2 linked regions of the Homo sapiens genome follow. The protein of the gene in region 1 purifies or fractionates together with the protein of each later gene. This does not show direct contact. Each region holds a gene or a part of one and is shown in the gene's direction. Other genes may lie near its edges.

The links.
Region 2: the proteins of ANXA4 (region 1) and HADH fractionate together in Homo sapiens (co-fractionation; one large-scale study listed by BioGRID). This does not show direct contact.

The regions. Positions count from the first base shown.
Region 1 is NC_000002.12:69,748,634-69,752,133, forward strand, and holds part of ANXA4 (annexin A4), read left to right. Parts: intron 1-3,500. UniProt on the Homo sapiens protein: Calcium/phospholipid-binding protein which promotes membrane fusion and is involved in exocytosis.
Region 2 is NC_000004.12:107,996,389-107,999,888, forward strand, and holds part of HADH (hydroxyacyl-coenzyme A dehydrogenase, mitochondrial isoform 2 precursor), read left to right. Parts: intron 1-3,500. UniProt on the Homo sapiens protein: Mitochondrial fatty acid beta-oxidation enzyme that catalyzes the third step of the beta-oxidation cycle for medium and short-chain 3-hydroxy fatty acyl-CoAs (C4 to C10).

The DNA.
Region 1 (3,500 bases):
ATTATACATGAAGGAAAATCACAGAGTGAATTTACTTAATATTCCAGTGGGGTGCAGATGCTTGTATACCCTACTTCTTTTTTTTTTTTTTTTTAATACAGGGTCTCACTCTGTTGCACAAGGCTGGAGTGTAGTGGCATGATCGTGGCTCACTGCACCCTCGACCTCCCAAGCTCAGGGGATCCTCCCATCTCAGCCTCCTGGGTAGCTGGGACTATAGGTGCATGCCACCACACCTGGCTAATTTTCTGTATTTTTTTGTAGAGACGAAGTTTTGCCATGTTGCCCAGGCTGGTTTCCAACTCCTGGGCTCAAGTGATCCACCTGCCTCAGCCTCCCCAAGTACTGGGATTACATGCGTGCACCACTGTGCCTGGCCTACACCCTACTTTTTAGAGGAAAGAGAGTTGAGGAAGTGTGGATGTTTTAGGGAGGTGGCAACTGATGTTTGGGGGAATTCAGCTGGCTCGAAGAACATACAATGGCCCGGGACAGAGCCTCTTGGGCCCACAGAACAGACAATGGTTTGTGACAAAAGTCCATCCAGGTGTGTTGACAGACTTTTGTCTTTCCTACTACAATATGAATTCAGCTAATGAAAACTCAGGGAAGGGACTAGGGGTAATGGTTTCCTTTTTTGGTAGGTCCAGACTTTAGTCAGATAAGGGAACTTCAGAGAACAACTTTGGGAGAGACAGAGGATTGAGAGACAGGAGGTAGGAGGGGGGATGTCTTTGGTTCAGCATGTCAAAGCACCATATTTTGGGATATCAGTTTCTGAGCCCCAGCAGACATACACATTGCAGCCTTGTTTGTAGTAGCAAAATAGTAGAAACAACCTAAACATCAGTAAAGATCTGGTTAAATTATGGAACATCTATGCAGAGTAATACTATGTAGCTATTAAAAAATGGTGCAGGTTGATAGGAACTGATATAGAATGACAGTGAAGATATTTTTTAAAAAGTAAAGTACAGCTGTGTGTGGTATGCTACCATTTTGGTGTATAAAAATGATGGAGGCTCTCACACCTGTAATCCCAGCACTTTGGGAGGCTGAGGCAGGCGGATCACTTGAGGTCAGAAGTTTGAGACCAGCCTAGCCAACATGGTAAAACCCCGTCTCTTACTAAAAAAAAAAAAATAGCTAGGTGTGGTAGTGCACGCACATAATCCCAGCTTCTAGGGAGGCTGAGGCAGAAGAATTGCTTGAACACAGGACGGAGGTTGCAGTGAGCCGAGATCATGCCCCTACACTCCAGCCTGGGTGACAGAGCGAGACTCTATCTCAAAAAAAAAAAAGAAAAAGATGGAGGCTGTCTATATTCTCATATGCTTATTAGTGCATTAAATACTTCTAGGAGGATACACAGGAAAATTATAAGAGTGGTTGCCTGGGGAGGGGGAAGGAAAGTCTTACAGACTTGTTGTTATGTACTTATTTGTACTATTTGAATTTGTTATGTTTATGTATTACCAATTAATTAAAAAAAAATAGTGTTACAGATATCACCTGCCCATTGAACATTGTTTGTGAAGAAGGAGAATTAAATAGAAATGAAGAATGTATAATTATCAGATTTCCAACCTTAAAATTAACATTCGATCATATACTTCCTTATATGTGTACAAAGGACTAGCATGCAAGTATCCTTCAGTTTCCAATGAGATGAAGCAGCCACCGCTCATTCTTGCCGTGTGTTTCACTTGGGTAGCTGGTTCCAAAAGAATGTAAAGTGCCTCTAGTTGGATGGTGGAGAAAGTTCTGCTTTTGGTTTTGTTTTGTTTTTGTTTTTCTAAGACAGGGTCTCACTCTGTCACCCTGGCTGGAGTGCAGTGGCACAACAATGGCACACTGCAGCCTCAAACTCCTGGGCGCAGGTGACCCTTCCACCTTAGCCTCCCAGGTGGCTGGAACTATAGGCACGCGCTGCCACACCCAGCTAATTTTTTGTATTTTTTGTAGAGACAGAGTTTTACCACGTTTCCCAGGCTGGTTTCAAACTCCTGGAGTCAAGCCATCTGCCTGCTTCAGCCTCCCAAAGTGCTGGGATGACAAGCATGAGCCATGGTGCCTGACCTAGCTCTGTTTTTAAATGGTCTGATTGGTTCCAGTGTGTCTTTAGCTGCAGAAGCAGAGAGAGGAGGTAGATGGGATAAATCAGGGCCTGTAGACTAGGTAGACCTGCTAGGGCAGGGGCCTTTGTCAGAGAAATGTCTCCCAGTGATATCAATGGCCATGGGCACTGAGGGGCCTGACCTTGGCTTTGGAGCCTGGACCCCTATCTTCAGCCAGACTATGTCTTAGTCTGTGAGGGACCTGCCTCTCTCTGCTGGAGATGTTGATAGCTAATGTTCACCAAGTGTCTTCTATGATCCTGACCCTGTGCCAGACATCTGGTATGATATTTTATTAAATTTTCACCCATATTAGGTGGGTACTAGTATTATCATTGCCAATGTAAATGAGGAAACTGAGGCACAAAGGGGTTGAGTAATTTGCTCAAAGTTGCACACTGACGAGCTTCACAGCCAGGATTTGAACTTGTCAGTATGACTCTATATCCTATGCTTTACCACTCTGTGTAATAGGTTAAAAGTGGGGGAATCAGGCCAGCCGCAGTGGCTCATGCTTGTAATCCCAGGCTAAGCAGGTGGATTGCCTGAGCTCAGGGGTTCGAGACCAGCCTGGGCGAAACCCTTTCTCTACCAAAGATATAAAACAATTGGCCAGGCATGGTGGCACACTCCTGTAGTCCCAGCTACTGGAGAGGCTGAGGTGGGAGAATCGCTTGGGCCTTGGAGGCAGAGGTTGCAGTGAGCCAAGATCGTGCCACTGAACTCCAACCTGGATGACAGAGTGAGACCCTGTCTCAAAAAAAAAAAAAAAAAAAAATACAAAGTGGGGAAATGAGCAGAAAAAGACAGGGCTGGGAGATTAAGCTATGGGGATGAATTCTTTCAGAGGGGAAGGAGGAGAGCCTAAGTCCAAACCACTTGTCCAAGATGAACTTGATATTGATTTAGGTCATTCTGAGTATCTAGGGGATCCAGGTGAGGAGTGGAGAGCAGAGGCTGAATCAGGACCATGTGCTGCATCATGACTCTGGTGGCCCATCCTTCTGGGATCAAGACTTAGGGCAGCATCTAAAGGCAGGGGAGGCAGCTCAGAACCTTGGCGTAGGGTCTTCAAGAGGTAGGCAGGAGGTCAGTGGCCTCTGCCAAATGGGCAAAGGTGCATTTATTTATTATATATGTAAGTGGCGGGCACTAGAGATTCAAGAATGAAACACACTGACTCAGGGAGATAAGTAAATCAATAATTAAAAAATCATAGGACTGTATGATCAGTATAATAATTTGATATATATGTGCAGACTGCCATGGAGTAACAGAAGAGGTGCACCTAACTCTATCATTAGTGGTCACAGAAGGCTTCCTGGAGGAGGAAGGTTTATATTGAGCCAGGGCTGGAGAAGAAGGGCTTATGCACAGTTGTGG
Region 2 (3,500 bases), on another chromosome or scaffold:
ACCTTTTCAGAATTTGTGGGAGGTGAGAAGTCTGGGAGAGGTTATCTGGGTTATTATGAAACCTACACACTTACTGAATTAAAAAAAAACTATGTAACACAATTCTAGTCTAAAAATGGGCGCACACTTTCTTTGCCTTTTAGAAATACTTTTTGAAATGTAAAATTCGAAGTCTAATAAAGGAGTCTGTCCAATTAATTTAACTGTTTGAAGAAAAAAACCAGTCCAGGCATGGTGGCTTACGCCTGTAATCCCATCACTTTGGGAGGCTGAGGCGAGCAGATCACTTGAAGTCAGGAGTTCGAGACTAGCCTGGCCAACAAAGTTAAACCCTGTCTCTACTAAAAATACAAAAATTAGCTGAGCATGGTGACACATGCCTGCAGTCCCAGCTATTCAGGAGACTGAGGTGGAAGAATTGCTTGAACCCAGGAGGCGGAGGATGCAGTGAGCCAAGATCACACCACTACACTGCAGCCTGGCCAACAGAGCAAGACTCCTTCTCAAAAAAAAAAAAAAAAAGAACAAACCAGCTGGTTGTGGTGGTGGTGGTTGACATCCTCAACAGAACAGCTTTTGCTAATTGTTGAAGTCAGGGAAGACAACTTGTGCTGATGGCAGAGTTCAAGACATTACACAACCAGAGACAATCATAAACCCAGAAATGCCAGCCCTGAGAGATGCAACTGATGTATGACTTTTTTCCTCTCTGGATCAAACCATGACAACCGTAAAAGGCAGGCCTTGCTGTTAAGGCGCTGCAGCCTCTGAAGCACAGTTGGCCTCAGGGAGCTCTGACTCAGTCTACTTATTCTGGGGATCTGAAGAAAGTCAGAAATCATGTGTGGTAGATAGTTTGCATAACTTTGGGATTTTCCAGAGAGAGGATGAAAACGGTGGCCCTCCTTGTAATGTCTAGGCACATGGGACATCCAGTGGAACTGTTGAGGGAGGAGATGGGAGGGAGACCAGTCACCAGACCAGTTGATGTAGGTCTCATAGACTCACCACTCAAGTTGTGCTTCGGAGAAAGCTGCTTCAAATCTTCTTGATACATTTACAAAGATAAATAAATCCAGTGTGCTTCTGCTTGGCATGTTTACTTGGTCCTGTGGTCAGAGTGCTCTGGGGCTTTGACAAATGTGCTAGTCACTTAGCCTATTTTTACAACTCTGAAGCAGCCGTGTCTAAAAATATTTCCTCTCTGGCTGAGCCTGCCTTCCACCAGGCCTAGAAAAGTCATGGAGCTGAGGACATAGCCTTCAAATATTTTTTTTTCCATTGCAGACTGCTTGTCCTCAAGGTCTTACCAGCATGTAGGTCACTGTAATATAAAACATGAGTTCTCAATGGATTGATTTAAATTGTGGTCACTCAAACTGCCAGGAAGAGTCCTCCTCATTTGTTGTAAAAATAACAGATGTCTATGAAAGGAGAAGAAGAAGGCCTTTCTTTTTTTGCAGTTCATTTCTCCACTGCCTTCTCCATCCCAGAAAGTTGGCGGTAACTTGGGTGTTACTGAATTACTCAGGAGAATGAATTGTACTTGTTTCTCTGTAGTTATTTTCTAAATAAGAGGTTACGTTATCAGGAGAGGCCATCAGCTACAGCAGTGGAAAGAGCCACCAGGTCTCATCTTGACTTTACCAACAAATGTCTTTATTCAGTCAACATTCCCTGAGGGCCAGCCACAGCCAGGCAGGGTCTAGGTTCTCAGTGTACAAAGATGAATGACATTTGGTCAGGAGCCTACAGTAGAGGAGTTCAGATTACTATAACACAGTTTGGTAGGTGCTGTGGTACACAGATGCAGGGATGTTACAGGGCATATGGGGGACATCTAGCTTAGGGCTGAGAGGATCTTGGGGAGTAGGCTTACTAACTGGAAATGATTGTTTTGTTTTGTTTTGAGACAGAGTCTCTCTCTATCACCCAGGCTAGAGTGCAGAGGCGTGATCTTGGCTCACTGCAGTGTCCACCTCCCAGGTTCAAGCAATTCTTCTGCCTCAGCCTCCTGAGGAGCTGGCATTGCAGGCGTGCACCACCATGCCTGGCTAATTTTTGTATTTTTAGTAGAGACAGGGTTTCACCATGTTGGTCAGGCTGGTCTCTAACTCCCGACCTCATGATCTGCCCGCCTTAGCCTCCCAAAGTCCTGGGATTGCAAGTGTGAGCTACCGCGCCCGGCTGATTTTTAGGCTTAGTTAATAGGTGAAGTTGGGGAGAAGGTGAGGCCAAGAGAAGGGCTGGAGTTGAGAGGCAGATGTAGGGAGCTACTGGCCTTGTGGTGGTGTTAAGACTGTCATGCATGAGGCAATAGTTGTGTTCTTTTTGTTTTTTTGTTTTTTTTTCTTAGTAATAGCCATCCTAATGGGTATGAGATCAGAGGTTTTTAACATTATACTGTGATGGACATTAGAGATTTCATGAATCTCCTTCATGGTTCCCGAAAGGTTGGTAAAGATTCCTTCTCTGACCTTTGTTGTACATATTGGTCTTCAATATGCATTCTTATGGAAAAAGGTGTTCATGGCTAAAACATTTGAGAGCCGCCACACTGAATGATCTCTGGGTTGTCTTCCTCCTCTCAAAATTGATGATCCTGATTATCTGTAGCTAATAAGCCTGAACAATAAATGCTTTCGCCAATCTCTTAAAGTAGTTGAGAAGCTAGGTGTGTTAGTTTCCCTTCTGTGATAGAGAAGAAACCTGTGTTGGAGAGCAGTGAGCTTATGTGTCTGTGGCCATCTCTGACCTGATTCACACATGTGCCCCTCACAGACAGGCACAGACACAGGGTTGGCATGCCTCTAGCCTTACAGCCTCTTGGATGAAAGGTATAAGACACATTCACATGTTGGAGTGAATTAAGCACACATCCATTTTGAAATCACAGGGCTGGATACCACTTAAAGAATATTGATCTTGCATTGGGCAACGCATAGCAACTGCCCTACATTTCCCCTTTTACCTAGCGTCACAACCACCAGTACTAGAAAGCAGTTAATCTGCTCACCAAAATAACAGAGAGAGACTTTAGTGGCATTTTTTCCACTTGGTAATTGACTAGACTCTGGCTATTAGCTCCTTTTTTTTCCTTACTATCCTTTTCAAACTAATAACGTGACTTCTCATAATTTTAAAGTAACTTGATGCTTACACAAAGTTTATCATAAAGGTTTCTAGCAACAAAACCAGTCATGACTTCTTGAGAACTTATTTCTAAAATAATTTACAAATTGAGACTTATGAAAAAATAGCTCTGTCATTCAAGTGTTCATTTCATGAGTATGAAATATCTCCCTTGTGCTAGACATCAGGCCAGGTAAAAAGTAAGATGTGATTGCTGCTCTTGAGAAACCTACTGTCTAGTGGAAGAAATACAGGTATGAACAACTAATTGTAATGAAGGCACAGACAGCCTACCTGTCATATCTGGGATTTGATCTGAAACAGATGAAAGTTATAATAGTTTACATACCTTACCTTAAAGTATGGTT